2 separate regions of the Homo sapiens genome follow, and region 2 is linked to region 1. Evidence: fine-mapped expression QTL. A gene starts in region 1. The other region holds a variant in brackets. All regions are shown on one strand. Distances are from middle to middle. Region 1 holds the start of GAB4 (GRB2 associated binding protein family member 4). Region 2 overlaps GAB4 (GRB2 associated binding protein family member 4).

Evidence for each region.
Region 2: its variant is fine-mapped to the expression of GAB4 in testis (GTEx, PIP above 0.99).

What each region holds. Positions count from the first base shown.
Region 1 is chr22:17,002,212-17,018,097 of GRCh38, reverse strand. GAB4 (GRB2 associated binding protein family member 4) reads left to right here and starts at 9,876. Exons shown (of 10, transcript NM_001037814.1): 1 at 9,876-10,157. The coding sequence starts at 9,984. It also overlaps the pseudogene IL9RP6.
Region 2 is chr22:16,955,110-16,970,995 of GRCh38, reverse strand. It overlaps GAB4 (GRB2 associated binding protein family member 4), which reads left to right. Exons shown (of 10, transcript NM_001037814.1): 4 at 803-1,053; 5 at 2,613-2,698; 6 at 4,632-4,896; 7 at 5,728-5,818; 8 at 6,134-6,230; 9 at 7,167-7,271; 10 at 8,120-9,060. The coding sequence ends at 8,263. Among named protein-coding and RNA genes, the nearest start is that of GAB4, 45 kb to the left of the region's middle. The variant C/T (reference allele first, on the strand shown) is at 8,516.

The DNA of each region.
Region 1 (15,886 bases):
TAGTGGTTGTACTAATTTACATTTCCACCAACAGTGTACCAGGCTTCCCATTTCTCCACATTCTCACTAGCATTTGCTGTTGCCTGACTTTTGGACAAAATTCATTTTAACTGGGATAAGATGATATCTCATTGTAGTTTTGATTTGCGTGTTTCTGATAATATAACTGCTTGCAATTCATATGTCTTCTTTTAAGAAATGTTTATTGAAATATTTTGCCCATTTTAAAGATCAGATTACTAGATTTTTTTCCTATACAGTAGTTTGAGCTGCTTATCTGTTCTAGTTATTAATCCTTTGTCAGGTGAATAGTTTGCAAATATGTTCTCCTATTCTGTGGGTTGTCTCCTCACTTTATTGATCATTTCCTTTGACATGCAGAAGATTTTTAACTTGATGTAACTTCATTTGTCCATATTTGCTTTGGTTGCGTGTGCTTGTGGGGTATTACTCAAGACATTTTTGCCAAGACCTGGAGAGACTTTCCCCAATGTTTTCTTGCAGTAGTTTTTTAATTCAAGGTCTTAGATTTAAGTATTTAATCCATTTTGATTTGACTTTTGTATAAGGCAAGAGTTGGGGTTATAATTTCATTCTTTTGCATGTAGATATCCAGTTTTCAAAGCACGATTTATTGAAGAGATTGTCTTTTCCCTAATTTAAGTTCTTGGCACCTTTGTTGAAAATGAGTTCAGTGAAAATGTATAAATTTTTTTTCTGGGTTATCTGTTCAATTCCATTGGTTTATGTGTCTATTTTTATGCCAGTACCAGGCTGCTACAGTTACTATAGCTTTGTAATATAATTTGAAGTCAGTTAATGTGATTCCTGCATTTAATCTGTGAATTGCTTTGGGTAATATAGAGATTTTAACATACTAACACTATCAATCCATGAACATGGAATATCTTTCAATTTTTGTGTCTTCAATTTATTTTATGATTGTGTTATAGTTTTTGTTGTAGAAATCCTTTACTTCTTTGGTTGATTTCTATGTATTTAGTTCTATTTGTGGCTATGATAAATGGTATTTCTTTTTAAATTCTTTTTCAGATTGTTCACTCTTGGCATATAGAAATGCTACTGATTCCTGCTGGGCGCAGTGGCTCACGCCTGTAATCCCAGCACTTTGGGAAGCTGAGGTCAGGAGATCGAGACCATACTGGCTAACACGATGAAACCCCGTCTCTACTAAAAATACAAAAAAAGTTAGCCAGGCGTGATGGTGGGTGCCTGTAGCCCCAGCTCCTCGGGAGGCTGAGGCAGGAGAATGGTGTGAACCCAGGAGGCGGAGCTTGCAGTGAGCCAAGATTGCACCACTGCACTCCAGCCTGGGTGACAGAGCGAGACTCTGTCTCAAAAAAAAAAAAAAATGCTACTGATTTTTATATATTGATTTGTATCCAGAAACTCTACTGAATTTATCAGTTCTAGTAGTTTTTGTGGAGTCTTCAGGTTTTTTACAAATATAAGATTATATCATCTGCAAAACAAGGATAATTTGTCTTCTTCCCTTTAGATGCCCTTTGTTTCTCTCTCTTGTCTGATTGCTTTTGCTAGGACTTCCAGTACTACGGAGAATAACAGTGGTGAAAGTGGGCATCCTGGTCATGTTCCAGATCTTAGAGAAGGGGATTTCAGTGTTTCCCCTGTCAGTATGATACTAGCTGTGGGTATGTCATATATGGCTTTCATTATGTTAATAATGTTCTTTCTCTACCCAGGTTTTTGAGGGTTTTTAATCATGATGGGATGTTGAATTTTATCAAATTTTTTTTAATGTCTTAATTTAAATGATTATATAATCTTTTCCTTCATTTTGTTGATGTGATGTATCATTTGGATTGATTTGCAACCATTCTTGCATCCTTGTGATAAATCACACATGATCATGAAGAATGATATTTTTAATGTATTGCTTAAAGGTTTGTTAGCATTTTGTTGAGGATTTTTGCATCAATATTAATTGGAGATATTGTAGTTTTCTTTTTTTAAAGTGTCTTTGATTTTGGTATAAAGGTAATTCTGGTGTTATAGAATGAGTTTGGAAGTATTCCCCATCTCTATTTTGTGGAATAGTTTCAGTAGGATTGGTGTTAGTTCTTTAAATGCTTGTTAGAATTCAGTAGTGAAGCCATAGAATATTGGGGCTTTTCTTTACTGGGAGACTTTTTATTACAGCTTTGATCTCATTATTTGTTATTGGTCTGTTCATGTTTTGTATTTCTTTGTGTTTCAATTTTGGTGTGTTTCTTGGCCCTAGTCTGGTCCACTCAGACCTGCTCCATGCTCACCATCAGGCAGCTGGTGGTCCTTCTTGAAGAGTGAGTGCAGCAGGGACCAGCGGTTGGGCTGAAGCCCCTTCGCCTCATGCGGACTCTCCAATACTCATTGAACTTCATGGTGAGGGACAGAGGACCCACCCTGGCTCTCAGCGGGAGAGCAGGGAGTTCTTGTTCAAGGAAGCCCCTGGGGCTGCCACAGGAGGCAGCCCTTGGGAAAAAGCGCCCAAGGCCCCCCTCAACCGGCCATCCTGCCTCCTCTGCAGGACCTTCTCTTCCCCTCTTTCCCTCCCTCCTGAGGTGAAAAGGAGGGGAGGAGACCACGGAGCCCACTGTGTCAGGGAAACCTGGCCCTTCCTTTTGAGCATCCAGGGGACTCGCATGGGTCTCACCCCTTCTCCAGGACCTGAAAGCTTCTCTCTCTGAAGAGCCCTGAGTTCCAGTCTCAAGTGTCTCGTTCCCCATTGCCTCCTGCTTCTCCTTTCATCCCCGCCACCACCACCTGGGGCTCACACTCCCTGCCTTTGGGCTTCAAATGTTGTACTACGTGCTTGACCCACTAGCCTGCTTAATCTTCAAAATCACTCTATCAAAAAGACATTTTAGGCTGGGCCTGTAATCCCAGCACATTGGGAGACCCAGATGGGCTGATTACTTGAGTGTATGAGTTACAGACCAGTCTGGGAAACATAACAAGATCCTGTCTCTACAAAAATAGAAAAAAATAGAAAAAAATTAGTGGAGTGCTGTGGCACATGTCTGTAATCCCAACTACTTGGGAGGCTGAGGTGGGAAGATTGCTTGAGCCTGGGATGTCGAGGCTGCAGTGAGCTGAGATCATGTCACTGCACTCCAGCCTGGGCAACAGACTGAGACCCTGTCTCAAAATAAAAATAAAAATAATTAAAAAGGGAAATTGCCGAAATCATTTAACCAATAAGATGAGCACCTACCTATCAGGGACAATAAAAGTTTAAAGGGGCCAACAATTATGAAGGCAGTATTGAATTCACTTGAAATATGAAGAACACCACATTGGGTGAATTTAGATAGGAAGGCCAAGGAGATATTCCTAGGAATATCATTATATATGGAAAACACTGAAAAAAGACACTGCAGTGTTTGAGAAAATAATGGCCATAGAAACAGATTTCATGGACCTTCCAGCTTATGAAAAAATCAACTGAAATTGCTCAACATTAGGTTAGAACATTAAAAAGGAAAAATAAGCCATTATAGAAGGAGAGAATTGGAATAGGGGACAGGAATGACCCATTTCCCAGTCTCTGCCTAGAACAGGGCTGGGGAAAAATCTGTGGTCATCATATTCACCATTGCATAAACACATATTTTTTCTATATGTCAGCAAGGAGCAAGTGCTACCAAGACAAGGCAAGGAAAAGGAATAGAGAATATTGCTGGGTGCTTTTCTGTAGGGTGATCAGGAAAGGCCTCACTGAAAAAGAGACATTAGAGCAGAGCAAGTGAGAGAGAGAGAGTCATAGAGAGATCTGTGGGAAGAGCATTCCACGTGAGGGCAACAGACACTGCAAAGGCCCCGAGGCAGGGAGTGCTTGGCATGTCTGAGGAGCCAGAAAAAGGCCAGTGGAGCTGGAATGGAGTGAGTGAGGAGTAATAGGGGCAGAACACATACGGCCTTAGAGATCATGGCTCTAGGTGTTTTATTTTCCAATTTTTAAAATTGTGTTAAAATACACATAACATAAACTATAGTAGTTTAACCTTGCTTAAGTGAACAGTTCAGTAATATTAACATTCATATGGTTGTGCAACCATTACCACCATCCATCTCCAGAATTCTTTTCAACTTGTAAAACTGAAACCCTCTGTCATTAAACAATAGCTCTCTGTTCTCCCTTCCACCCAGCCCCAGGCAAGCACCATTCTACTTTCTGTCTGTATGCATTTGACTATTCTTGGGACCTTATAACAGCAGAATCTATGGTATTTGTCTTTTCTGACTTATTTCACTTACTCTAATATCTTCAGGGTTATTTTAATATTATTTGTCAGAATTACCTTCCTTTTGAGAAATGAAGAATATTCCATTATGTGTATAGACCACATATCCATTCATCTGTCATGGACATTAGAGTTGTCTCCACATTTAAGCTATTAGTGAATAATTCTGCTATGACCATAGATGTACAAATACTTCTTTGACTCTGCTTTGAATTTCTTTGTGTAGACACCCAGAAGGGAAGTGCTGGATCATGTGAGCCTCCAACCCACTGTCTGCAGTTGTCCTTGCGCCTCCACTCCGCTGTCCCCAGAGCTGTCATTGATGTTCCACCCTACTATCTTGGAGCTGGTTTGAGTCTGCACCCTGCTGTTCTTGGAGCCTAGAAAGCCCACCAGGCCTGGCCAAACTCCACCCCTCCCTTGGTCTCTCCTCCCAGGCATCAGCACTTTGGAAAAGCCATTATGCACCTTTTAATATCTACGAAAGGTGCCTCAGGAAGGCATGGAGAGGTCACCACTTCCAGGTTATGGTGTCTCACCTGTGTCCACTGGCCCCATGCTGGCCCTTTAAGGGGTAAGAGCAGAACAGGCTGGGAGACTACACCTCTTTTCTCAGAGTGGCTATAGATAAAGCCAGAAAGGGGACAGGAGAATGTGGTGCTGTGGGCAGGATGCTGAGGGCAGAGGCCCCTCCCCACAGGTGCTGAGCAGGTCGGGCAAGGAGGAGCTTCCAGCCTCCATCCAGGCAGGACTTCTGACCACTGCTAGAGGCCCCTTCTCAGGAGGTCCTGTCCCAGCCAAGGGCCAGCTCCAGAGACTTTTGTCCATCTTCCCTAAGATGGACACGATGCAGGTGGCTGTGTCTGGGCCCTAGAAATTTCAGGACTGAGCCATGGTGAAGACAGGAGGGGATTGTGGGCCCTGGATGTCCCTGTGCAGCCCATGCCTCTAGCTTGGACCATTCACCGCCCAGGTACCTCCTCGCTAGGTCTCCAAGCCCCAGTGGTCATGTGACAGGCCATGGGGCAGGGCTGGGATGGGTTCAGGGCTCCATGTGCTTCCTGAGAGGGCTGAAGGGTTGCATCCCTCCAGAGCAGCCCAAGGCATAGTAGCCACTGCTACCCCACTCAGTCTCGGTGAGCAGGCTTGTCGGGGATGTAGGGGCCTGGTCCTCCAGTGGCAGGTAGGCAGGCAGCGGTGCCTCTCACTCCTCACACTCTGCTGGCAGCATATCCTCCAAACTTGGGGCCCCTAGGAGGTGTCCCCATGCCCTCCTGCTCTCCTCCAGGCTGACAGATTTCCAGGGACATGCTGAGTCACAGGTGAGTACTGCAGTGGCCTCTCGCACACTGAATTCCAAGGCTCCTTGCGAGGTGCTGGCACAGTCCTGGCTCAGCTGCACGCTGGCCCTGTGGGCCCCCATCCAGGTTAGAAGCAGAGTATGGGATGAGGAAAGGGATCAGGCAGCATGATCAGAACTCACCCTGGGAGTGGCAGCCTCCTCCTCAGCAAGCCCTCCCTCCTCCTCCAAGAAGCCCTCCTGATGTCCACACCCAGAGGCCAAGCAGCACCTGTGCCAGGAGCATTCTGTCTTCCTTACTATGTGCCAGCTCAGCCTCAACATGGGACCCTGAGTCTCTTCAAGTCCCCTCACTGCTCCCCTAGCACAGAGCCTGGTGCTCACAGCAGCCTGCACCAGGGTACAGATGGTGACATGTGCTGAGGAAAAAACAAACACTTGGCAGCATGCAGCATGTGTCCCAGGGCCTTTCAGCAGCTACAGAGACTGGGTACCCCCACCTGAACAATTTTCTCTGTCTCTCTCTCTCACACACACATAGCATGACGGACAGGTGACACGAAGACTGGTGACTTTCAAGGTGCTTGGGAAAGGCCAGCAGACCTGAATCCTTCTGTGGGGACACAGGAGACCTCTGCTTCCAAAAGGAAGCTCTTCCCTAGGTGGGACCAGAAGTATCCATCCAACACGCCACACACACACCACACCCTCCATCACTGCACTGCTCCCTGCCAGACCCTCACCCAAGGCCTAAATAATCCCTGGCAGATGCCCTGGTTCTATAGAGAAGGGCTGGTGTCTGCAAGGGGATGACACAGGCCAGGGTACGATCACAACCTCTGCCCCGCTCAGACTTGTCCTCAGCTGCCCAGGCTCTTGACAGTCACATTTGCCACTGTGAGGAAAGATGGGAAATCTGCCAAGACCCAAGTGCTCAGTTTTAAGCTTTAAATTATATTTTTGAACAACAATCCTAAGAACTGGGCTTCCTGTTGAAAGGGAAAATGATTTTTCTACATAATATGCTGGCAATACTGTGTGGAGGGGATATCTCTGCTGCACAGGGTCCAGGGAAGCCCTGCAGCACCAGGAAAGGAGATCCTGGTGTCACCCTACAAGGAAGAAGCTGAGACAAAGTTAATCTTAGTAGAGAGTTTATTTGAGACAAACTTCAGGATTGCAACTCTGGAGCATAGATTCAAGTTATCCTGAATATACACTGCAATTAGCAGCAGTTATGAGCTGATTTTTAAAGGCAAAACAAGGTGGGCAGGGAAGGGGCAGATACAATTCCTCAGGAATTTTAGTTGGTTCATAGCAATAACACTGCTTAGTGATGGGCCGTACACTGTTAAGCTATAGGGTGTGGGGTATGGCGTCTGGTGTGGCATTATGAGGTAAATTCATAGCTACTTCTGGCAACAGCAGTATCAAGAAATGAATACACAGCTCAATGTGAGGGAGTAGGACATGACTGTGGTCTCATTTTAATGCCTCTTTCTGGGCCTGATAATTAAAGCACTTGCATTTCTCAGATAAAAGTTATTTTATTTTCCTGACTGGTAAAGACCCAGGTCAGCTTGGTCCAGACCGCAGGGAGAGGCCCTCATGCCCTGTGTCCTTTGCCCAAAGTGAGAAGCCTGAGGGAGCACACTGGAGCCCACCCCTGGAGCTCTCCCTCTGCCCTTCCTCCTACCCACGGGGCATGAACTGCCAGCTCAGCAGGGAGGGGAGGGTCCTATGTGACCCCCAAGTAGTTCGCTGATACATGGGCTGTGGGAGCCAGACGAGGCCCACAGAGGGGGAAATGCAGAGCCCATTCCTGACTCTGGTGCCAATGTGTGACTCCAGGGGAATCGAAGGGGTGGGCAGACCAGGAGCCCAGGGTCAGTGAGGGTCCCAGGGGCAGCACAAGTGCTGGAGACCCTCCCCGACAGCCACCGGACAGACACTCACAGAAGGAGGAGGTGAGACCCATGGTGGGCACGGATAGCTGCAAAGCAGAGGAAACAGAGATAAGTTATGAGAAACTTATATATATTTTCCATCAACCATGGAATGGAAGACACAAGAAAAATAAATCATCAATGGAAAATAAAGTGGTTTTTTTTTGTCCACTTGAGACACAGAGGATAAATTTAAATTCACTGTATACACACACAAAAAGGCTCAGAACACTCATAAGTCGCCCACAGTGGCCCCCAACCGTCATCAAAGCCAACATCCTGGGCAGGCTAGACCTTGGGGCAACACCTGCCTTCCATGCCCTGTGGCAGTCTCTGCACTCTCCTGAAGTTCCCATTGTGCGCACTGTAGGGGGCTGGAAGAATGTTGCTGGAGAGGACATATTCTGGAAGAGGGTTCTTTCCACCCTGAGGCCAGGAGAAGACAGTCAGAGGCCCACGGGGACCCAGGTCGGGGCTCCTGCTGAGGCCCCAGTCGGTACGAGGTCACTGCAGGGGCTGAGCTCCCTTCCATCCAGGAAGACCTTATCTGCCTCATTCCTGCCACTGCCTCTCTCCCGTCTCACCCCATCCAAACCTACTCTCATCTCAGGGCAGGATCCAACTGGGTACCCTGTGGCCTCGTTGGCTAACTGATTTATACTAAGGTATGTGTCCTTTACAGTGTGAGCTGTGATGGTGAGTTTAGAATTGACTCGCCATGACTGCAGCCTGCAGAGGGAGCCAGCACCTCCAGGAACCCCATTCTTGCCATCAGCAGAGGGTCTATGGCTCCCACCTCATCCAGTGTCTCCCTGAGCACCATGTCTGCCTGACCAGGACCCAGTGGTCCTCCCATGAGGATGCTGCCTAGGGCTCCAACCCAATAGGTCCAAATACACCTCACCAACCTCCCCTCGGGGCTGTCCCCCCATTCCCCACCTCAGGGTCGGGTCACTACTCATATCTCATCCACCCACATGTCTCCTCAGTCTCAAGACTCTGCAATTTCCTCCATGTGGCTCCATCTCCACTTTTCCCACCAGCTCAAGCCAAATCTTATCTCTATGGACATCCCATTGGCCCTCATCAGGTCCCCCATGTCTGCTTGTTCCTGCAATCCATTCTCAAAACATAAAGCATAACATGTCACACAGTTTCACACTCTTCAGCACTTTCCTTTGCTCTGAGGAGAAGCCAGGCACCCACTCACCTGGCCCCACCCAGCACCCCCATCCCCACACACTCTTCCTTGCATCCTCCCTGCTACCTGATGGGGCCCCTGTGCCCCTCTTGTAAGCTGACATGCAGTGCACATTGGGGATGGCTTACTGAAGAGGCCCCTTGTCTGTCCTGTTCTCTAAGACATCTGCAGAGGCAAGAACAGATCCTGTGCATATCAGATGCCCCCAACTGTGCTTTCACACAATGTGTGAACAAAGAAGCAAACCAAGCTCCTCCAGAGGCAGGAGACAAGGACCTCCGGCTTCTTGGTCCCCGTGACACCGGGTCTGGTTGAGGCCAAGCTGCCCTCATCTTTGACCTGTTCTCTCCTTCCCTTCTCTCCCCAGGCAACATGAGAACCTCCAACTGGCCCAGGGAAGGAACTTGTAAAGCCCACCCCAACCAGGATAAGACAGTGGGGCATAAATGGGAGGAGAGGGGTTGGCTGTCAGTGCCACACTCAATGAACACTCACACATGCACACACTGATGCGTGCACACACGTGACATAAGTACACACGGTGACATCCCAATACATTCACAAACATACACAACACAAACAGGCCCAAACCCTCACTCTGAAACCTAACCCCACCCCCAAACTGCAACCCGGAACTCAAGTCCTAGCCTGAACCTTGACCCCAAACCCCAACTCAAGTCAGAAGGTAAACCATGGGCCGAATCCCGAACTGGAACTCAAACCCCAGCAGGAACCTGAACTCTTCCATTGTCTTTCCTCATCTGGCGCATGGGACTCAGCACCTGAGACTCTGTTGTGGCCCTCTGAATGAGCTGCGCCCCTCGTTCTTGTCCTCTCCACCAGCTGCGCTCCCTGTCCCTCTTCTCCCAAGGAGCCACCCGGCCCATGTCCCCCGCCCCGGTGGTCCCGATGAGATGCACCCAGGCTGACCCAGGGTGCAAATCCCCACCCCAATCCCCAACGCAAACCCTGAACGAGAGGCCTCGTCTAAACTTTAATCCCAAACTCCACCTCAAATTGGAACCGGAACCACAGATGGAAGCCTGAACCGGAACTCAAAGCCCAGCTGGAACCTGAACCCCGCCCTCGCCTGTGAGCACCTGCGCCCGGGTCTCGCCCTCCCCACGAGCTTCACCTCTGACCCCGACCTCCCCTAGAACTGCGCTTTCTACCCCGCAGTCCCAGGGTATCGCAAGCCGTCCCTCACACCCCACCTCCAGCAACGCCCTCTCGCCCTGTCTCCCCCACCTTCACTGTGAGCTGCAGCCCCCATGTCCCTGCCGTCCCCCTCACCCTCCCGGGAGCTGTGCCCACCTGACCCGGCATTTGCGCCTTTGTCTTCGTGGCCCGGAAGTGGCCCCGCCGGCGGAAGCACGAGAAGTGGCCACGTGCTGTACAGCGGCTGGCTGAGGAAGTCGCCCCCCGAGAAGAAGCTGAGGCTCTTTGTGAGTGGGGCAGTGGGGGCGGTACCAGGAGCGCCACGGAGGGTCTGGGGACTCCGGGAGGGGCGTGGGGGAGGCGGCCTGGGTCCACGGGAGGAGCTGCGGGTGGAGGCGACTTCTCCACGTCTGCATGCGAAGGCGACTCCCCGCCAGTGAGAGACAGGGTCCAGGTTTGTGTGGGTTGCGTTCCGAGACCCAGGGAGTTGATTCCAGGGCTGGGGACCCTATTACCTTGAGCGCCGTGGGCCTGCAGGTCGGAGAGTGGGCGGGAAAGGGGACACAGCAGGCTCCGCAGCCTCGCAAAACGGCAGGAACCTCGCACCCGCTCCCCTTCCCTCCCAGGCCCTGAGAATGGCGGGCACCTCGCACCCTCTCTCCTTCCCTCCCAGGCCCCAAGGAAGGCAGGCGCCTTAAACCTGCTCACCTTCCCTCCCAAGCCCCGAGAAGGCAGGCACCTCACACCCTCTCCCTTTCCCTCCCGGGCCCCAGGAAAACGCGGGCACCTCGCACCCGCTCGCTCCCCTTCCCTCCTCACCCGCCACTCCCGGGGTCGTTCGCGTCCTTCCATGCCACCACGCCTGCTGAGGGACAGTGTGCACTGCAGTGTAGTTTTCTATATATTAATTCATGTGGTTAAACGATTTAGAAAAAAAGAAGATTGGTTGCCCTTTCCCCTAGTGGCTAATTTGAAGAGTGTTGTTCTAAATTTCAACAATTTTACTGAGGAAGCGGTAATTGTTAGGAGTCACTATGATTATACCAAGGTACATAGAAGAGGCTTTTCTCTCCTGTTCCTTAGCCCCAGGTCCAGCCCTTCAAGAATCTATTCCAGAATAAGCTGATCCTATAGTCATCTTCCCTTTCCTCTGCTTCCCTGAGGTATGGGGTATGATCAATTCTGCGTTCTTGTCTTTCTCCATTTCTTTTTTCAATTTTTTATTATACTTTAAGTTCTGGGATACATGTGCAGAACGTGGAGGTTTGTTACATACATATACACGTGTCATGGTGGTTTGCTGCACCCATCAACCCATCATCTACATTAGGTATTTCTCGTAATGCTATCCCTTCCCTTGCCCCCCAACCCCAATAGGCCACATTGTGTAATGCTCCCGTCCCTGTGCCCATATGTTCTCATTGTTCAGCTGCCACTTATGAGTGAGAACATGGCGGTGTTTGGTTTTCTGTTCCAGTGTAAGTTTGCTGAGAATGATGATTTCCAGCTTCATCCATGTCCCTGTAAAGAACATGAACTCATTCTTTTTTATGGCTGCATAATATTCCATAGTGTATATGTGCCATATTTTCTTTATCCAGTCTATTATTGATGGGCATTTGGGTTGGTTCCAAGTCTTTGCTGTCGTGAATAGTGCTGCAATAAACATACGGGTGCACTTGTCTTTATAGTAGAATGATTTGTAATCCTTTGGGTATATACCCAGTAATGGGATGGCTGGGTCAAATGGTATTTCTAGTTCTTGATCCTTGAGGAGTCGCCACACTGTCTTTGACAATAGTTGAACTAATTTACACTCCAACCAACAGTGTAAAAACATTCCTATTTCTCCACATCTTCTCCAGCATCTGTTGTTTCCTGACTTTTTAATGATGGCCATTCTAACTGGCGTGAGATGGTATCTCGTTGCATTTCTCTAATGACCAGTGATGATGAGCATTTTTTCATGTTTGTTGGCCACATAAATATCTTCTTCTGTTAAGTGTCTGTTCATATCCTTTGCCCACTTCTTGATAGTGTTGTTGTTTTTTTCTTGTAAATTTGTTTAAATTCCTTATACATTCTGGATATTAGCCCTTTGTCAGATGGATAGATTGGAAAAAATTTCTGCCATTCGGTAGGTTGCCTGTTCACGCTGATGATAGTTTCTTTTGCTATGCAGAAGCTCTTTAGTTTAAATAGATCCCATTTGTCAATTTTGGCTTTTGTTACCATTGCTTTTCATGTTTTAGTTATGAAGTCTTTGCCCATGCCTATGTCCTGGATGATATTGCCTAGGTTTTCTTCTAAGGTTTCTATGGTTTTAGGTCTTACGTTTAAGTCTTTAATCCATCTTGACCCCGACCTCCTTCAGAACTGAGTTAATTTTTGTATAAGATATAAGGAAGGGGTCCACTTTCAGTTTTCTGCCCATGGCTAGCCAGTTTTCCCAACACCATTTATTAAATAGGGAATCCTTTCCCCATTGCTAGTTTTTGTCAGGTTTGTCAAAGATCAGATGGTTGTAGATGTGTGGTGTTATTTCTGAGGCCTCTGTTCTGCTCCATTGGTCTATATATCTGTCTTGGTACCAGTAACATGTTTTGGTTACTGTAACCTTGTAGTACAGTTTGAAGTCAGGTAGTGTGATGCTTCCAGCTTTGTTATTTTTGCTTAGGATTGTCTTGGCTATACGGGCTCTTTTTTGGTTACATGTGAAATTTAAAGTGGATTTTTCTAATTCTGTGAAGAAAGTCAATGGTAGCTTGATTGGAATAGCAATGAATCTGTAAATTACTTTGGGCAGTATGGCCGTTTTCACAATATTGATTCTTCCTATCCATGAGCATGGAATGTTCTTCCATTTGTTTGTGTCCTCTCTTATTTCCTTGAGCAGTGGTTTGTAGTTCTTCTTGAAGAAGTCCTTCACATCTCTTGTAGGTTGTATTCCTAGGTATTTTATTCTTTTGGTAGCAATTGTGAATGGGAGTTCACTCATGATTTGGCTCTCTATTTGTCTATTATTGGTGTATAGGAATGCTTGTGATTTTTGCACATGGATTTTGTATCCTGAGACTTTACTGAAGTTGCTTACCAGCTTCAGGAGTTTTTGGGCTGAGATGATGGGGTTTTCTAAATATACAATCATGTCATCTGCAAACAGAGACAATTTAACTTCCTCTCTTCCTGTTTGAATACCGTTTATTTCTTTCTCTTGCCTGATTGTCCTGGCCAGAACTTCCAATACTATGTTGAATAGGAGTGGTGAGAGAGGGCATCCTTGTCTTGTGCCGGTTTTCAAAGGGAATCCTTCTAGCTTTTGCCCATTCAGTATGATATTAGCTGTGGGTTTGTCATAAATAACGTATTATTTTGAGATATGTTCCATCAATACTTAGTTAATTGAGAGTTTTTAGCACGAAGGGGTGTTGAATTTTATCGAAGGCCTGTTCTGCATCTATTGAGATAATCATGTGGTTTTTGTCATTGGTTCTTTTTATGTGACGGATTACGTTTATTGATTGTTTGTCATAAATAACTTATTATTTTGAGATACGTTCCATCAATACTTAGTTTATTGAGAGTTTTTAGCACGAACGGGGTGTTGAATTTTATGGAAGGCCTTTTCTGCATCTATTGAGATAATCATGTGGTTTTTGTCATTGGTTCTTTTTGTGTGATGGATTACGTTTATTGATTTGCATATGTTGAACCAGCCTTGCATCCCAGGAATGAAGTCGACTTGATCGTGATTGATAAGCTTTTTGATGTGCCTGGGTTCGGTTTGCCAGTATTTTATTGAGGGTTTTTGCATTGATGTTCATTAGGGATATTGGCCTGAAATTTTATTTTTTTGTTGTGTCTCTGCTAGGGTTTTGTATCAGGATGATGCTGGCCTCATAAAATGAGTTAGGGAGGAGTCCCTCTTTTTGCATTGTTTGGAATAGTTTCAGAAGGAATGGTACCAGCTCGTTTTTGTACCTCTGGTAGAAATCGGCTGTGAATCGGTCTGGTCCTGGGCTTTTCTTGTTGTTGTTGATAGGCTATTAATTATTGCTTCAATTTCAGAATTTATTATTGGTTTATTCAGAGATTTGACTTCTTCCTGGTTTAGTCTTGGGAGGGTGTATGTGTCCAGGAATTTATCCATTTCTTATGAATTTCCTAGTTTATTTGCATAGAGGTGTTTATAGTATTCTCTGATGGTAGTTTGTATTTCTGTGGGATCAGCGGTGATACCCCTCTATCATTTTTTGTTGTGTCTATTTGATTCTTCTTTGTTGTGTCTATTTGATTCTTTATTAGTCTGGCTAGCGGTCTATCTAATTTTTTAAAAAACAGCTCCTAAACTTACTGATTTTTTGAAGGGTTTTTTTGTGTCTCTATCTCCTTTAGCTCTGCTCTGATCTTAGTTTGTGTTCTGCTAGCTTTTGAATTTGTTTGCTCTTGCTTCTCTAGTTCTTTTAATTTTGATGTTAGGGTGTCAATTTTAGATCTTTCCTGCTTTCTCTTGTGGGCATTTAGTGCTATACATTTCCCTCTAAACACTGCTTTAGCTGTGTCCCAGAGATTGTGGTACATTGTGTCTTTGTTTTCATTGGTTTAAAAAAAATCTTTATTTCTTCCTTGATTTTGTTATTTACCCAGTAATCATTCAGGAGCAGGTTTTTCAGTTTCCATGTAGTTGTGCATTTTTGAGTGAGTTTCTTAATCCTGAGTTCTAATTTGATTGTACTGGGGTCTAAGAAACTGTTAAGATTTCCATTCATTTACATTTGCTGAGGAGTGTTTTACTTCCAATTTTGTAGTCAATTTTAGAATAAGTGAGTGCTATGTGGTGCTCAGAAGAATGTATATTCTGTTGATTTGGGGTGGGGAGCTCTGTAGATGTCTATTAGGTCCACTTGGTCCAGAGCTGAGTTCAGGTTCTGAATATCCTTGTTTCATTTCTGTCTTGTTAATCTGCCTAATATTGACAGTGGGGTGTTAAAGTCTCCCACTATTACTGTGTGGGAGTCTAAGTCTCTTTCTAGGTCACTAAGAACTTGCTTATGAATCTGGGTGCCCCTGTCTTGGGTGCATATATATTTAGGGTAGTTAGCTCTTCTTGTTGCATTGATCCCTTTACCATTATTTAATGCCCTTCTTTTCGTTTTTGATGTTTGTTGGTTTAAAGTGTGTTTTATCAGAGACTAGGAGTGCAAACCCTGCTTTCTTTTGGTTTCCATTTGCTTGGTAAATATTCTTCCATCCCTTTATTTTGAGCCTATGTGTGTCTTTGCACATCAGATGGGTCTCCTGAATACAGCATACTGATGCATCTTGACTCTATCCAATTTGCCAGTCTGTGTCTTTTAATTGGGGCATTTAGCCCATTTACATTTAAGGTTAATTTTTTTAAATTATACTTTAAGTTTTTGGGTACGTGTGCACAATGTACAGGTCTGTTACATATGTATACGTGTGCCATGTTGGTGTGCTGCACCCATTAACTCGTCATTTAACATTAGGTATATCTCCTAATGCTATCCCTCCCCCCTCGCCCCCAACAACAGGCCCCAGTGTGTGATGTTCCCCTTCCTGTGACCATGTGTTCTCATTGTTCAATTCCCACCTATGAGTGAGAACATAAGGTTAATATTGTTATGTGTGAATTTGATCCTGTCATTATGATGCTAGCTGGTTATTTTGCCTGTTGGTGCAGTATCTTCATCCTGTCGGTGGTCTTTACATTTTGGTATGTTTTTGCAGTTGCTGGTACCAGTTTTTCCTTTGCATATTTAGTGCTTCCTCAGGAGCTCTTGTAAGGCAGGCCTGGTGGTGACAGAATCCCTTAGCATTTGCTGGTCTGTAAAGGATTTTATTTCTCCTTCGCTTATGAACCTTTGTTTGGCTGGATATGAAATTATGGGTTGAAAATTCTTTTCTTTAAGAATGTTGAAAACGGAGGTTCCAAGATGGCCAAATAGGAACAGCTCCAGTCTACAGCTCCCAGCATGAGCAATGCAGAAGATGG
Region 2 (15,886 bases), 47 kb after region 1:
TCGAACTCTTGAGCTCAAGCCATCTGCCTGTCTGGGCTTCCTAAAGTGCTGAGAATACAGGTGTGGGCCACCGTGCCTGGCTTCAAACCTTTTTCTATCCAAATAGAGTTGCCAAACAGGAAACCATTTTTTCTATAGATGTTTAGGTTTCTGGGGAGAGAAACTTTTCCTTCGAATTGCCTCTCTAACCACCGTAAAACCTGGTAGAAGATGGATCTGTTGCTTATGTCTGAATAGTTCTTTATAACTTACCCATTGACACCCATGAGCTGGTTTACTTTAGAGGGGAACACTGACACTCAGAGATGAGATGACTCGCTTGCTGCTTCCTGCCACCCACTTCAAAGCTCTCCCCACCGTCTCTCAGCCTGGGCATTCAGTTGTGCACATTCTGCAATGCTCACAGCAGGGAACCAGTAGCCAGTGTACCTGGCTTGCTGCTCTGTTTTGTGGGGGTGAAACTGACCACCCTGCTAATCACAGCCATTGGGGGAGAGGAATAAGGTCTTGCCTTGATTGAATTAGACTCTAGATATACTAGAGTCTGATTTCTAAGCAACCTGCAAAGTGAGTTTTTAATCACCATTTTACAGATGGAGAAACTAATTCAGAAAGGGAAAATACTCAAGGCCACAAGGTAGTAAACTCCCAAACTAGACAAACCTCAGGTCTGCCCAATTCCTCTTCCTGTGTTTTCTCCATATCATCTCACTACATTGGGCTGTGAACTTCCCCGCCTGCCTCCCTGGGGCAGTCCTGGCCTCCTCTCACCCCTGCCCCTTCCCTTCTTTCTCTCTCTTAGGAGTGCCAGCTTCTCCCAGGGTTCTGAGGCCCCATTCATCATGAGGAGAAACACAGCCATGCAAAATCTTGCCCAGCACAGTGGATACAGTGTTGATGGGGTCAGCGGTCACATCCATGGCTTCCATAGCCTTTCCAAGCCCAGCCAGCACAATGCAGAATTCAGAGGCAGCACCCACAGAATCCCCTGGAGCCTGGCCTCCCATGGCCACACCAGAGGCAGCCTCACAGGCTCTGAGGCGGATAATGAGGGTGTGTACCCCTTCAAGGCACCCAGAAGCACCCTGTTCCAGGAGTTTGGGGGCCACCTGGTGAACAATAGTGGTGTTCCGGCCACCCCACTCTCAGTGCACCAGATTCCTAGGACAGTCACGTTAGACAAGAACCTCTATGCCATGGTGGTGGCCACTCCTGGGCCCATAGCCTCCCTTCCCCTGCCCAAGGCAAGTCAGGCAGAAGCATGTCAGTGGGGCAGCCCTCAGCAGAGACCTTTAGTCAGTGAAAGTAGCAGGTGGTCTGTTGCTGCTGCCATCCCCAGGCGGAATACCCTTCCTGCAGTAGACAACAGCCGATGTCACCAAGGTCAGTATGAGCCCTCACTGAGACCCAGAGGGAGAGGGGAGGTGGCACCGGGTTCTCAGTGGTTAGCTAGTCCTTGGTCTCCCATGGCCAAGGGAGACTTGGGAGCCACTCAGGTCACTGATAGTCAAGTTCATCTCCTGCCTGGACCTTGACCACTGGGTCCCCCAGCACTGGAGGCTGTTAATAGACACCCAGTGGCAAGACTGGCAGACTTGGCCTCCACTAAGGGAGACAGAACATTCTTAGTTACAGTACAGCACATTATGGGTTTGGAATTCTAAATCATCATAGTGTATGTATGTTTAAATCCGAGTAAAGACTTAAAACAGAAGTTTAGGAGATCAGTCCAAAACTAGAGCCAAACCAGTGTGGACTAACAGACTGTTGAAACAAAATGAGATCTTCAAAATATTTTCCAGCCTATATTTGGGTCTCTTTGTTTGAAGCCTAAACTTGTATTTGAAATACCTAGATTCTTTTCTCATTTGTTTTCCACTGAGAGTATTTTATATCTGCATATAACCTCCTCTCCTCAATGAAAACAAATAGATCAATAGTAACTCCTTTCCTTTTGCATCCATTCTTATACCTTGCAAAGCCTTTGTTTATTCTTCCTGTTATGAGAGAGTCTGGTGGGGCAAAGCCTTGTTTTCTCCATTTTATATGAGGCCCATGGTACTTAGGCTTATTCAGGGTTGAAAGTCATAAGTGGTAAAGATGAGCCTCACCCTGAGGTCCTGGATCCTGGGTTAGAGTTCTTTGCAGTCTTTTTAGTGTTTCAGCAATTTGAGCAAGGCCCTTGTGCTGTGAAATTGAAATGATAGAGGTATATATAAAACATGTTTGCTGTTCAGAGCTCACATTTATGTGTAAAATAAAATGAAACCGACATGCAGAAGTCAGTATAAGCACTCTTTACTATTCCTGGAGGTGGCAGGTGGGTGAAAGGGATGGGTGGTGGGTGCTGTAGGAGTTGAAGGAAAAGGTGTGTCCTGAGGGCAGGCATCCAGGAGGGACACTGTGTGGGTAACACTGGAGCTGGACCTGGAAGCCCAGGAGGAGTTGTGGTAGGGAGCAGGGATGTGTTAGAGGTAACGCTTTGTCATTTGGGGTTGAGAGTCGTGTCCTCTAGAGCATCAGCGAGACCCTAAGCAGCACTGGGGAGGGCGTGGGAGGCATCAACACATGGATCAGCTGTGATGCATGTGGATCTCCTTCCTCTGTCGTAGCTTCCTCCGGCAAGTACACCCAGCATGGTGGAGGGAATGCCAGCCGGCCTGCTGAGTCCATGCATGAGGGAGTCTGTTCTTTCCTGGTGAGTATGGCTTAACCAGGGGTCCCCAGACTGGCTCAGGGAGGTAAAGGTCACACTCCATGGAACTAAAAGCACATCCCCCAAAGGGTGACAGCATCTCCCTCCTAGGAGGCTGCCTAGGTTCTTGCCTCAGTTCAGAACCATAGGTTCAGTTTTTGGATAAGTGAGATACTGGTATCCAGGTCTGGAAGAAAGTGAGTACTTAAGTAGATGGGATCACAAGTCTTACCAGCCCTGTGGGTAGCAGAGGGTGCAGAATGCTGGGGTTCTGGGTGCTCTAAGCAGGTGCTCTAACCCATGAGGTCCCCTGGAGCAGGAGTGCTTCCCTGTGAGCCTTTGGTATGGGTAGGCAGAGGGGACAGGCTGCTGGGGTGGTGGGTGATCTGATTCAGCAACCTTATCCAGGAGATCCTCTGGAGCAGGGGTGCTTCTGTGTGAGCCTCAAGGCAAGGGCAGTACTCAGAGTCAGGTGAGGTGGATGGATTCCAGGCTGCCACCTGGAAAGGGTAACCACAGTTCTCCAAGGTGTCAGACAAGCAACAAGGCCTGGCGTCAGGCTTCTTACAAAGATGGTGGGAATTAGGTAACCAAGGCAGAGGGCAGATGAGGCAGGAGCTGGAGGAAGGCTGTACCTAGGTCTGCTGCATTGCGCAACTCTGTGGCAGCTCTGCCTGCAGCTTGGTGGTCACCCAGGAGCCCGAGTGAGCCCCAGGCTCCCTATACCTCCCTGATACCTTGTCTGCTAATCACAGCCATTGGGGGAGAGGAATCTCCTTGTCTGGGGAAGTGCACCTCACCCCATACGTCACCTTCCAGGGCCAAGACATCTGATGTGATCCTTGCCTTGATCAGGGCCTGAGATGCTGACCTGCCAGTGCCGAGTCAGGACTTGAGGTGGATGATGGGTCTCGAGGCCACATCTGCATGGTGCATGGTCTGTGCTGCCTTCTGCCTGGGTCTGGTATCCAGAAACCTGAGTGGACATTGGGTGCTGAGCCACATCTGCATGGTGCATGGCCTGTGCTGCCTTCTGCCTGGCTCCGGCATCCGGAAACCCACGTGGACATTGGGTGCTGAGCCACACCTGCATGGTGCACGGCCTGTGCTGCCTTCTGCCTGGGCCCAGCATCCAGAAACCTGAGTGGACCCAGCCACTAAAGATATTTTATCCCATAGATTTGTCACAAATTGTAGTTGGACCCCAAGGGGTCCTGAGAGCTAGAAGTGCCCAGACATCTCATTTTTTTCTTGCCTCTACTTTGATTTCAGAGTCTTTCCAAGGTCACTCTGATAGCTTCAAAGTGTAGCCCTCCCCATGTAGTGAACTCTTATAATTGTATGCTGCCTTGGCATCCACATCGAATGGAGTTTTAACTTTCTCAGACCAGAGGCAGAGGACTTAGTCTCCCTGATGGTTTCCAGTTCTACACCACACCCATGTGGCTTCAGTCAGTGGCCAGAGATGGGAATTTAGACTTACCTCCCCCATGCAGCAGACTGGGCTCGCCACTTTCTTGCTGCTCCCTTTAAATGGACCATCCAGGCATTTACTCTGACCTTAATTAAGTGATCCCACACCCCATTCTGCAAGATACACTTCCAGTTGCCACCCTCTCTCCTCTTACTCCCTAACCTCCCAGGACCTGTAAGAACTGAAAACTCTTCCACTTTTACATGTTGACTGTGTCATGGAAGCTGCTCCAAAGTCTGACCCCTGAGGCTGCCCAGAGGGGCCCCATCCATGGGGTTCCTGGCTGGGGCACTTCTATCTGGGCCGCAGGTGGCTGCTGAAGACAGCAGCCCCCAGCCAAGGTGATCAAAAGTTTCGTTCAAAACACCCCGTCATGACTCTTTTTGGCCTTGTCTAGAAATTCTCATTCCTATCTTGTTCTTGCTGGTGATAGCTGTGTTTCTTTCACTGTCCTCTTCCTAGCCAGGAAGAACGCTTGTGGGCCTGTCAGACAGCATTGCTTCTGAGGGCAGCTGTGTGCCCATGAACCCAGGCTCCCCTACCCTGCCGGCTGTGAAGCAAGCAGGCGATGATTCCCAGGGTGTCTGCATCCCTGTGGGCTCATGTCTTGTTCGCTTTGACCTGCTTGGCTCCCCACTCACAGAGCTTTCTATGCACCAAGACCTCAGCCAGGGACATGAGGTCCAGCTGCCCCCTGTCAACCGCAGCCTCAAGCCTAACCAGAAGGGTAAGTCTTTCCCCATTCTATTTCTTGACAATGTCCAGGGACTCTGCATTCGCTTAGGTGTCAGGTGGATCCTGGATGTGGAACGTCTGACTTTGGCAAGTCATGTGAATTCTCTGAGCCTCAGTTTTCTCCTCTGTGAAATGGAGATAGTAACTCCTACTTCCCGGGTTTGTTTGGAAGGAGAGTGTCTGGGACAGTGGCCCTGGCTCACAGCAGGTGTCCAGTGAAGTTTGGTCTGTGCCCTCCACGTGTAGACCAGGAAGAAGAGCTAGAGCTCAGGTTCCAGGCTGCCATGACCTCACCCTGTGGCCTTGGCCCAGCACGGGGTTCAAGGAAGGAGTGGGATAACTGGGTGGGGATCAGTCCTGTGGGTCTGGCCACAGGGAACCAGACCCAGCGAGTGGCGCTGGAGCCTCAGCACCTCATGGTGTCTACCTGCTTCCATGGTGGGCTACACAGCCCTGTCCAAGGCAAGCAGGGGCAGGCATGGGGACTAAATCCATTTCAAACATTGTGTCTGTTTTTTATATCAAGTCAAATTTAGGCAGAAAAATCTATTGTCAGACTATGAGTCCCCATTTTGGATTCTGAAAATACAGTGGCTATAGATACAGTGGGAGGAGCATACGATCTGGAATCTGAGAACAGAACTCTAAGGCCCTTCAGCATGACCCAGCCGATAGAGCCTTGCCAAGCCTCAGTCCCCCGCACACAGCTGGGTGGACTGGGTGGACGGGGTGGGCCTTTCTAAGCACACCTGGGCCTTGTAGCAAAGTGGACATGGGTGTGGTGTCATCACTGGCTGATGACAAGGTTCTTTTCCTGCTCCAGCCAACCCAACACCGCCCAACCTGAGAAACAACAGGGTCATCAATGAGCTCTCCTTCAAGCCACCTGTCACAGAGCCCTGGTCTGGGACCAGGTGAGTGTCTGTCAGTGGAAACAGGAGCTTGGGACCGGGCCGGTGGAGGAGTGAGTGGGATGGTCATTGGCTTGTGGTCAGGATAACTGGATGCTCATGTCGATGTGGACATGGCTGATCCTGTCTCCGTCTCATGAGGCGTGACGGCCTTCTCATCTGTAAAGGGGGAATAATGATCCCTGTCCCTATCAGTTCTTGATCTGGTAACAGTGTGAGGCCTGGATGCTTGAAGTCAGGGCCCAGCTGGAGGCTGGAGCCCTGACAGCAGCCCTGAGCCCCACCCAGGATGTACTCCTTGCCTTCTTCCCATGACAGCCACACCTTTGACTCCAGCTCCTCCCAACACCCCATCTCCACGCAGAGCATCACCAACACAGACTCAGAAGACAGTGGAGAGAGGTATCTTTTCCCGGTGAGTCCTTGGGGGTCACTGTAAGGCTCCTATCAGAGTCCCCTGGGACCCACACTCATGTCCCCGCTTCCCAGCTTAGCTACCTCAGCTGACTCACCCCAGCCCAGTCAGGTGTGATTTGGTCTCCTATTGCAAGCTCTTCTTGAGCACAGGTGTATCAGGCAATCATTAGGGTTAGGAAGATGATGGTCTCCCCTCAAGGAAGTCTGGAACTTGAAGAGCAGAGGCAGCCCACCTCGCCCTCATGACGGTGATACAGGTGGTGCCCTGCCCTGGAAGAGGCAGAGTTGGAGGTGTCTGCTTCGCCATGGGGAGACACACATGTACATGCTTCACCCTGGTGAGGGCTGTGAGAGACGTGGAGATGCAGGTGGAACACAGGATGCCCCTTAGATTGGCACTGAAGAGGGCATCATGACCAACATTTGATAGTTGCTGCATAGATATTGGAAGAATGAGCCAGCCAGCAAAGCAGCCAAAACCCAGAGCCCAGGGCGGCCACTTTTCTCACCAGAGCCAGACTTCAGGAATGTCCCAGCAAGGTGGCAGCCTTCTAGAGAGGAGGCTGCGGGACCCTGCGTGTCTCCTGGAGAGCTGCCAAGGGGGTAGGCTCCATGCAGCCTCAGGTGGTGGGCACTGCCGATCTCTGGGAGCTGGAGGGGGAGGCAGCTGCTTCATAGGATGGACCTACTCTGGGCCATGGGTGGGAGTTTCAGATGACTGACTGGGTGCAGCATCCAGTGTGTGAAGGAGAGGCACAGTAGTAACACCTGGCTCACAGGACTGCTGAAAGGGTTTGAATGAGCAGAGAGTGCCCCAGTGCATGGCTCAGAGTAGGACCCAGTGGGCTCGTAGCTACGCCCACAGGTGTGTTCCACTGGGTGCTGGGTCTGTGTCCTGAACTCATTTGCAGGATTTTCCTCCTTGTGACAGCAGAACCCGGCATCTGCATTTCCTGTTTCCGGTGGCACCAGCAGTTCAGCCCCGCCGAGGAGCACTGGTAACATCCACTACGCGGCCCTGGACTTCCAGCCGAGCAAGGTGCCTGGGGTGGAGCTGGGGTTGGGCAGAGCCCTTGGGCCCTGGGGGAGAGACTGTGGGGCCAGGCCCTTCAGCACCGGCAGCACTGGGCTGCTGGGCTGCCACTCCCAGCCCAGTGCCTGGCTCTTATGCTCAGTGGTGCTCTGATCTGGATCTCGGGGCTCCTGTTCCTTCCCTCTCAGCGTGGTGCCTTCATCAGCCTGCCCCGACTCCCCATTAGAGACAGATGACTGTGTGGAGACCTGATCTGTGGAGGTTGTGGAATAAATCAGGAGAGACCCAGGACCGGCAACCTGGCTCCAGGCCAAACTCTTCTGTGAGGAGAACTCACTGTGTGGGAGGGTTCTAGAGCCCGGCCATTGATGCGGGGGACCTCAGAAGGAACTCCTGGGTCCAGGAAAGCCTCCCGAGAAAGCACATGTAGCCAGCCTGTCTAGACAGCAGGGTGGAGAGCTCCATCTCTGTGCATTGCGCCCCTTGGGGAGATAGGGCTCACCAAGGGCACCCCTGGAAAGGCCTAGGCTGGTGCTTGTTGACACCTGGGAAATTTCCTGCCATGGATGAGTGTTTAGAGGGGAAGGCCTTGGCCAGTCCTTGGGCCAGAGAAGGGCCTGGCTCTTCCTGCGAGGTGGGAGATGAGAAGTGCTGGCCAGGGCTATGGCATCCAGCAGGAGGAGAGGTTAGCCTGGAGTTGAGGCTTTAAAGCCCAGGCCCCCCAGGCTGCTGAGAGCAGGAGGCAGAGGTTCCTTCCCCCTGAGAAAGTTTGAGAGAGCCCACTCCTTGGCCTGCCCTTCCTCACCAGGAACTCACAGACACTGCCACTCCCACTTCCACCCTCTGTCCCTCAGCCATCCATAGGCTCTGTCACGTCCGGCAAGAAGGTGGACTATGTCCAGGTGGATCTGGAGAAGACCCAGGCCCTGCAGAAGACCATGCATGAACAGATGTGCCTGCGGCAGTCCTCAGAGCCTCCCAGGGGCGCCAAGCTGTGACTCGGGCCACCAAAACCAGAGTGGGGCCAGGACAGTGCCTCAGAGCTGCTCCGCCACACTCTAAAGCTCTGTAATATCAGGGACCGCATCCCTTACATAGAGAGCAGAGGCCTGATCAATATACATCCTTTGCCTGCTTGGGGCCCACCTGTGCCTTTGGCTGGCCATGGTCCCCACCTTCACCCCCTTGCTAGGAGCAGTTGCCAGCAAGCATCCTCAGTCTCTTCCTGCCCCTCAGACCCGGGCTCCCAA[C/T]AGATTTCCACTCTCACACTTACTCATGGTCCTCAGCCTCTTCCTTCTAGCCTCTGGGCTGTTTCCCTCAATCCTGGAACATGAGGAGCTACCTTGCTGACCCGGGGACCCAAGGCCCACAGGCCACAGTGGACATGGACCTTTTCAGCCCTGGCATTTTTTGGTCAGGGGAGAGGCAAGGCCATCAAACGTTGGAATAGTTGAGAAGGAAGGTTAAAGGTGGTCTTGAGAAGCAAAGGAATTAGATCCTTAGACCAGCAGGGCAGCTGATACCTGCAAGGGCTCCCACTTTCAGACTGAGGCCAGAGTATGGCAGCTGCTCCCGGGTGGGAGAGGCAGAGAGGGAAGGGCAAAAGGAAGGGAAAACATGAAGACGAACAGCCGAAAGCCACAAGAAGCAGGGCTGGAGCTCCAGAGACTGGGGTGACAAGGACCAGGGTCAGGGCCCCAGAAATCCGGAGCTGCAGGCTGGCTCTGCTGCTCTTTGCTGATGCCCCTTGGGGGGCCCTTGCCTGCCTAAGAAGGCTTGATCTGAGCTGGGCAAAGCAGCAACTGATGGGGGAAATACCTGCAGGGTGAGGGGTGGGATGGGGCAGGGAGTGAGGGAGGAAGGGAGCATGTGCAGATGGAGATGGCTCAGGGCTGAGGGGCTCCTGGGACAGGCAGGGGCCCGAGGCAGGGCCCGGGACTCCGCAGTGCAGGTGGTGCAGCACGTGACCTTCTGTGAAGGGGCAGAGCAGTGGGGAGGGCACAGAGGGAACCCATGGGAGGCAAGGCCGGGGAGACAGCCAGGGAGAAGTGGGGAAATGTGGCCAGGGGCCCTGGGGGCATGCCATCAGTGGTGAAAGGAATACAGGAGCAGAAGGTGAAGGGGGGTCTGCTATGCATGGGAGCAGTGTGGGAGGCCAGCTGGAGGGGCATCTGGGACGCGGGTAGAGCCTGCAGGGAGGACGGCCTGGGGTGGGGCTGAGGCTGTGCCAGGCCGTGTTTCCCTCTCACTTCGCCCTCTTCCTTGGCGTTCCAGTGCCACATTGGACTCAAACTTGGCTATGGGGACAGGAGAAGCCAGTCTCCTCCTCCTGTGACTTGAGAGATTCTCAAATCGCAGGTTCAGAAGGTAGGCCCTCACCCAGGGCTTCTTGTGCCAAAGTTCAGGTAGGGATCTGAATTTTTTGTTGAAAGTTTTTGACCAAAATTTCGAAGAGTTTCAGAATGAACAGGGCAGAGCGGACACTTCATCCTACCTTGGGGTGAACAGACTTTCCTCCTCCAAAAAATGACTGCCCACAGGGTTTGATGGAGGCGGCCTCCACACCCTGTCAGCACCTGTGAGCACCACACTTCACCAGACCAGGGGCCTGGCTGGCTTCTGGGGATCCATCCCTCAGCAGGAGCCCTCTCCCCTGGCAGCTCAAAGGCTCAGGTGGCAAGGCCCCGGGCTTAGGCACTGAGGACACGGGGAATCTATTAGACCTTTTCCCAAACGTGACAAGGTCACATCAGTGAGGGAAAGGACAAGGACACAGACAGTGGTGATGGCCAAGATAGGCTGAAGATGCTGATGGGGTGCACAGGAAGTGAAAACTCCTCAGGGAGTGGAGGCAGAGAAGGTGGTTTTTAGGACAAGGGGTGCCTGAATTAGTCTTGAGAGGTTAGGTCAGATTTTTGCAGGGAAGGAGGGCAGGGCCAGGCTGCAGTGGAGGAAGGAACGACAGACTGGAAAAGCCTGTGCTGAGGGGCCACAGGAGCTTTGGAGGGCAGGTCCAGCTGCTCAGAACTGCAGGGGCCGGGCCTTTGTGCTCCCACGGGTGGAATGGTGATGGCTGTGTGACCACACTGGGCAGAGTGTGCAGGGTGCTGGCTCACTGGCCCAGCCCTGACTGTGTCCCTGTAAGGTCCTCTACAAGGGGTCCCATACAGCACAGCTCTTAACTGCCATCCCCTGTCCCCAGCTGACTACAGTGGGGCCCAGTATTGATCTCAGCTCCCAGCCCAGCCACCTTCCCTGTTGATCCCAGGCTGCTAAGAAAGTGCTGCATGTTCTGAGTGTGCATGGTGTGCATGAACTTGGTGGAGGCTTCAGAGACTGAGGTGTTCAAGTCCCATCTCCAGAGGGGTTCCTTCCAGCTCTTGGTTCCTGTGACCACCAAACCCTGAGGGTGAAAGTAGGGGTGGAGATGGAAAGAAGGACAAGAGAAGAGGACACTGGCCTATTGGAAGCAGAGCTCTACTCCCAAGCCTGGACTCCAGCCATGTCTAGCATGTATCCCCCCCTCCACCCACCATCCCAGAAGGAAAAGTCAACTCAGCTTAATACAGGGGTCCTTGGACCTATCTTGAGGTTAAAGTCCACCTCCCCTGGTGGCCTGGCCAGGACTGAGACCCCAAAAAGGGACACCTCAGCCAGTGCAGCTCACATGGGGGCTTGTCCTGCTGGGCTCTCCAGGGGAGCCGTCTTCACCCACCCCCACCACCTGCAAAGTTAGAGAGCAGTCAGGTGGGAACAATGAGAAACGGGCAAGGACATCTCCCTAGGACTTTGCTTTCCCATCTGTGGAGTGGGTGGTTGGATTCGATGTTGTCTGGCCCCTTCCTAGGCTGAGGCTCTGCTGGTCTCGGAGCTCCTTGCTCTGTTACTTCTCTCTGGAGGCTCTGCATCGCAAGGGATGAGCAGCACGAGAGCTTTGGCCAATTAGTCCCTTTCTGGCTTGATATGGACAACTTCTTCATTTCAAACTATTAAAATAGACCACATTCCTACGGCAGAAGCACAACCATTCTGGTTATGGGAACATAGGCTCAGCTGTAGTCGGCCTTGTGGTCCTTCAACGTGCTGTGAGGCTGTCATCTTAGTCCCAGGCCCTGGCACAGCATCACCCACATGACTGTGACCCCCAGGGACATGCAGGACAGGGAAGTGAGCACTTCTGTTCTGGGCCTGGGCCTTGATCTGGGAAGTGTGGGGGAGGGGAGGCTGACCTGCAGAGCACTAAGAGCATCATTCTGGGATACACCAGGCCCCTGAGGCCTGGGACGATGGCCGTCTGCCTGCTGAGAGCCCACTGCAGAGTCAGGCTGGTATGTTTGGTCCAGCGGTGTGTGTCCTTGTGTATTTGTTGGCTACTTGTATCTTGCTGTTTAGAATCATTTTGTACAGAATGTTTGGTTTCTCATTAAGAGAAAATGGGCAAGAAGCCCAGTCTTAAGTTCTTGTCTTGGTACCATTTAAAATTGACATTTCATTTTTTTTTTTTTTTTTTTTTTTTTTTTGAGACGGAGTCTCGCTCTGTCGCCCAGGCCGGACTGCGGACTGCGGACTGCAGTGGCGCAATCTCGGCTCACTGCAAGCTCCGCTTCCCGGGTTCACGCCATTCTCCTGCCTCAGCCTCCCGAGTAGCTGGGACTACAGGCGCCCGCCACCGCGCCCGGCTAATTTTTTGTATTTTTAGTAGAGACGGGGTTTCACCTTGTTAGCCAGGATGGTCTCGATCTCCTGACCTCATGATCCACCCGCCTCAGCCTCCCAAAGTGCTGGGATTACAGGCGTGAGCCACCGTGCCCGGCCGACATTTCATTTTTCAAATCACTGTTGGTGCCTAATCACTGAAGTTATTCCATTTTCTTTTAAAACTTTTGTTATGTGTATTTACCCTGTGAGCACACCTGGGGGTGACAGGAGTGTGCTCAAGAGGCTATCATTTCTGCTGTGGTCACTGGACAGGCCTCGTGCTGGCAGGCTCCTTTGTACTGAAGCACTGGAGCAGGACGGTAGTGAAGTTCATGAGGAATACAGCCCAGGGTGGGCTGCTTGGGTCTTTCTGGGAGTGGAGCCCACACTCACTCAAGTCTCACCTTAGGCTGAGCCTGAGCACCTGGCTGCCCTGGGCAGGCACAGACACACACTGTCAACAAGAAAACCATTTCAGAATCATTTCTCCAATGACCCAGGAAGGCCACTGTGCCAGTCTGTTCACTTCATCTTAAATAGGAAATAGGTACTTTTCCTGGCTCAGAGAGAAAATAAATTCTCTTTATCACAGAATCTACTTTCCTAATCTGTAAACTGGACATTGTGCTAGCACCTGCCAATCCGTCTTTCTTAGAAGGGAGTCTAGAGGTGGTTCTGAGAGGGCTTCATCTGTGTCTGTGTCCACTGGGCCCCTGGCAACAGGTTCCTGAGGTCTGACATCTCACAACTCCCCTCCACTGCTCCACCCACTGCACAAGTGGGGCAGCCCTTGAGGTCCCTGGTGCCTTTTTACCTTCCATGTTCTCCCAAATGGCACTGTAGGAATGGTGCTTGCGGACCCTGTGGTAAGGGCTGCTCCCAAGCCCCGTACATGCCCCACTTCTCTGCTTCAACTCCAGGATGGGGTGGGGCCCAGGAAAGGAGCCGGGTGCGGGCTCTGGAGTGGGAAACCTGTGGTGAGGGCTGATCCTGGGCTCTGCGAGTGTGGCTGCTCCTGCGTTTCTCTAGCTCCAGGCTGGGTTGTTGCCTGTGGTAAGGAGCTAGGTGTAGGCATGGTAGGTGCACCATGGCCCTGTGGTGACAGCTGGTCCTGGGCCCTGCCAGTGTGGCTGCTCATGTGCTCCTCTCCAGCTCCTGGATGGGATGGTGTCCATGGGAAGGAGATGGGTTCGAGTTCTGGAGAAACAGGGGGCTGCCTCCCAGCTAGCCCTGACCCATGCCAAGTCCAGCTCTGGAGATGTGACAACCCCCTCTCAACCTCCCCAGCTTCTCAGATGCAAGGAAAGAGGGATGTGGCATCTGCAACAGGTGTTTGTGGGCAGTCCAGAATTCTTGGGTCTGAAACATTTCCAGTTATTTATTTGGGTTTCAAGTGCACCTGAGAGGTGAGTCCCCTCCACAGTATTCCACTGGGACCCCCCATCCTGTGCACCCTTCCTCTCTCTTCCATTCCATCCTCTAGGTCCTCCCAGCCTCAGAACTAGGCAAGTCCTTCAGCACACAGGGCTGTCACTCCATGCTGTACCTCAAGTGATGGGGACAGGGGTATGTCCTCTCCTTACCAAGGAGCAGCATGGGTCCCTATCATGCTGCCCAGATGCAGTGAGGAAATCGAGGGTACAGCATACAGGAAGAGCAACAGCTTTCAAAGGCTTCAGAGAGGCTGGTTTCATACTGCTTGAGAACAAGGGTCTTTCTCTTCATAGAAAAGAGGCTATAGCATGGTCAAGGCACAAGAAGATCACTGGACTGCCCTCGCTCAGCCCTCAGCTACTGCTCTGGCTGTCCATGGCTGAAACTCATCCTGCTGGCCAAAGCCTTTGCTGTTCCAGTTGTTAAATATTTTGATACCACCCTTAACTCTAAAGGGTGGAGTCACAGGCACAGTTAGGAGGTAGAACTAACCTCCCACTGACACTTGGCCATTCACACTCGTAGAACAGCACACTTACTAAACAACTGCATAATTCATTATTCAAAGTCTGTTCCTCTGAAGTAAGGGGTTAGGTGCCTGGGCCACCGATATATTCCGAGCACTGAGCAATGAATGAATGAATGGATGGATGGATTTTTTTAAAAGGCTCAAAGTGAAGGGAAATATTGTATCGAACCAGTGCTTGGCTGGGACTGGATGCATCTCCACCCAGGAGATCAAATCCAGGATCCTGGTGTGTCTGCTCTTCCACAGGTGAGGATGCTGCTGTCCTTGGAAATGGCTTCCGTTCAGCCCTATGGAGGGTGGACATGGTCCAGACTCTGGGAGAGCCCGGCTCAGCCTTGGGCCCCTCCCTAGGCCACTGCTGGTAAAAGAGCACACAGACCTTCCTTGGGTAAAAGGGAGGGGACATTGCAGATAGACAGCAGGAGAAGGCCACCTGTGTGGGCAGTTCCCATAGGGCCTAGGCGGCAGCACCCTTGCGGGCTTAGCAGTGGTTGGGACGGCTCTCCTGGGACACTCCAGAGAGTGCTGGTTCAGTGCTAGTCCACAGTCCTGGCCTGGCACCAGCAAGTGGGGCAGTGATGTCACCCAGGATCTTGCAGTTCCTGCATTGAAGGGGAAGCACAGCAATCTCTGGATGAGGTAGTGTGGCGCCTGGCTCAGGCCCCTGCCTGTTCAACACCCTTCAGGACAGCACCCACCTCGCTGGAGCAGCGGTTCTCTGCTGTCAGCCTGAGGGAACAGGAAGTAGTTGACCAGGTTCAAGTCAAAGCTGGAGACCACACAGCGCCTTCACAGAGAGGGTAGTGGTGTCCTGTGGGTCCCTGGTCCCAGGCCATTCTCCCCCTTCTTGTTCACCTTCTTCATTCACCTCTGTACCCTCAACAGCCCAGGGATGCCTGGCAATGTGGGTGCTCAGAGGTCACAGTAGATGAATGATACTTACAGCACATGAAGGCCCCAGACTTAATGCAGTAGGTGGAATCACTGGAGAGAGAGATGTGGGCAGCAGTACAGAATGGGGCTCGAGGGGGCCCTGCCATGGCCCCACAGTCTCTGTCATGAACCTGTGCTAGCATGGACAAGGGCTCAATAGCTTCTTCCATGAAGTAGGCTCTTGTAGTCAGATGCAGGTAGGTCCTGGGGCAGGGAGGGTGTCACTGTGGAGGCCTGACCAGAGCTTCCTTTCCACCCACTCCTCCCCCTGCACACACTTGGCTGTGATCCAGGAAGGCAAAGAGCCACTGCAGCCTGGAAATAAAAGGCTGTGAGTTGTTCTCAAATGAAGCCAAGAGTGTTTGAAGCTTCACAAAAAAGCAGGAGTGCCCAGGGTAAGCAAAGGCCCCAAAGGAGCTTCTCCTCACCCATGGCCTCCAGGCCGAAGGCAGAACAGGCATTTCTAGTTCAAGGTGAGGCTGGAGGCATGGGACCTGGAGGAAGAGAAGGTGAACACTTGGCCCAGAGTGTTTGGGATCAGAAACACAGCAATGACCTTGGTTTGGAAAATAAGCGGTATAGCAAGGTAACCCCCGAAGTCCCTTCTAGCTCTGACATCCCATAGCCCCAGGAGCCAAAAATTAGTGTGTCCTAACATCTTGTGATGCCAGGGTTCTAAGGCTGGGGCTCTGGTCTGCCACAGAGTTCATGTCAACATCATCCCACCCACAGCAGCCCCCACACCCCTTTCTCCGTGGTTCCCCAGGAAAGAACATACAGACCCCTGCAAAGCAGCAAGCTCCACCTCTGTCCCAGTCCACTGCTGCAGCCCCTGTTCGGGGTCCTGGCCCTAGAACCACCATGAGTTATTCTACCCACACCGCTTTCTCCCTGCTTCCCCGGGACAGGGCATTCAGACCTATGCAGGGCAGTGCATCTGGCTCCAACACACGGCCCCAGTTCACTCCTGCAGTCCCTGCTCAGCACCCTGGCCCTAGAGTCACCCAAAGTTATCCCCCTGCCTTCA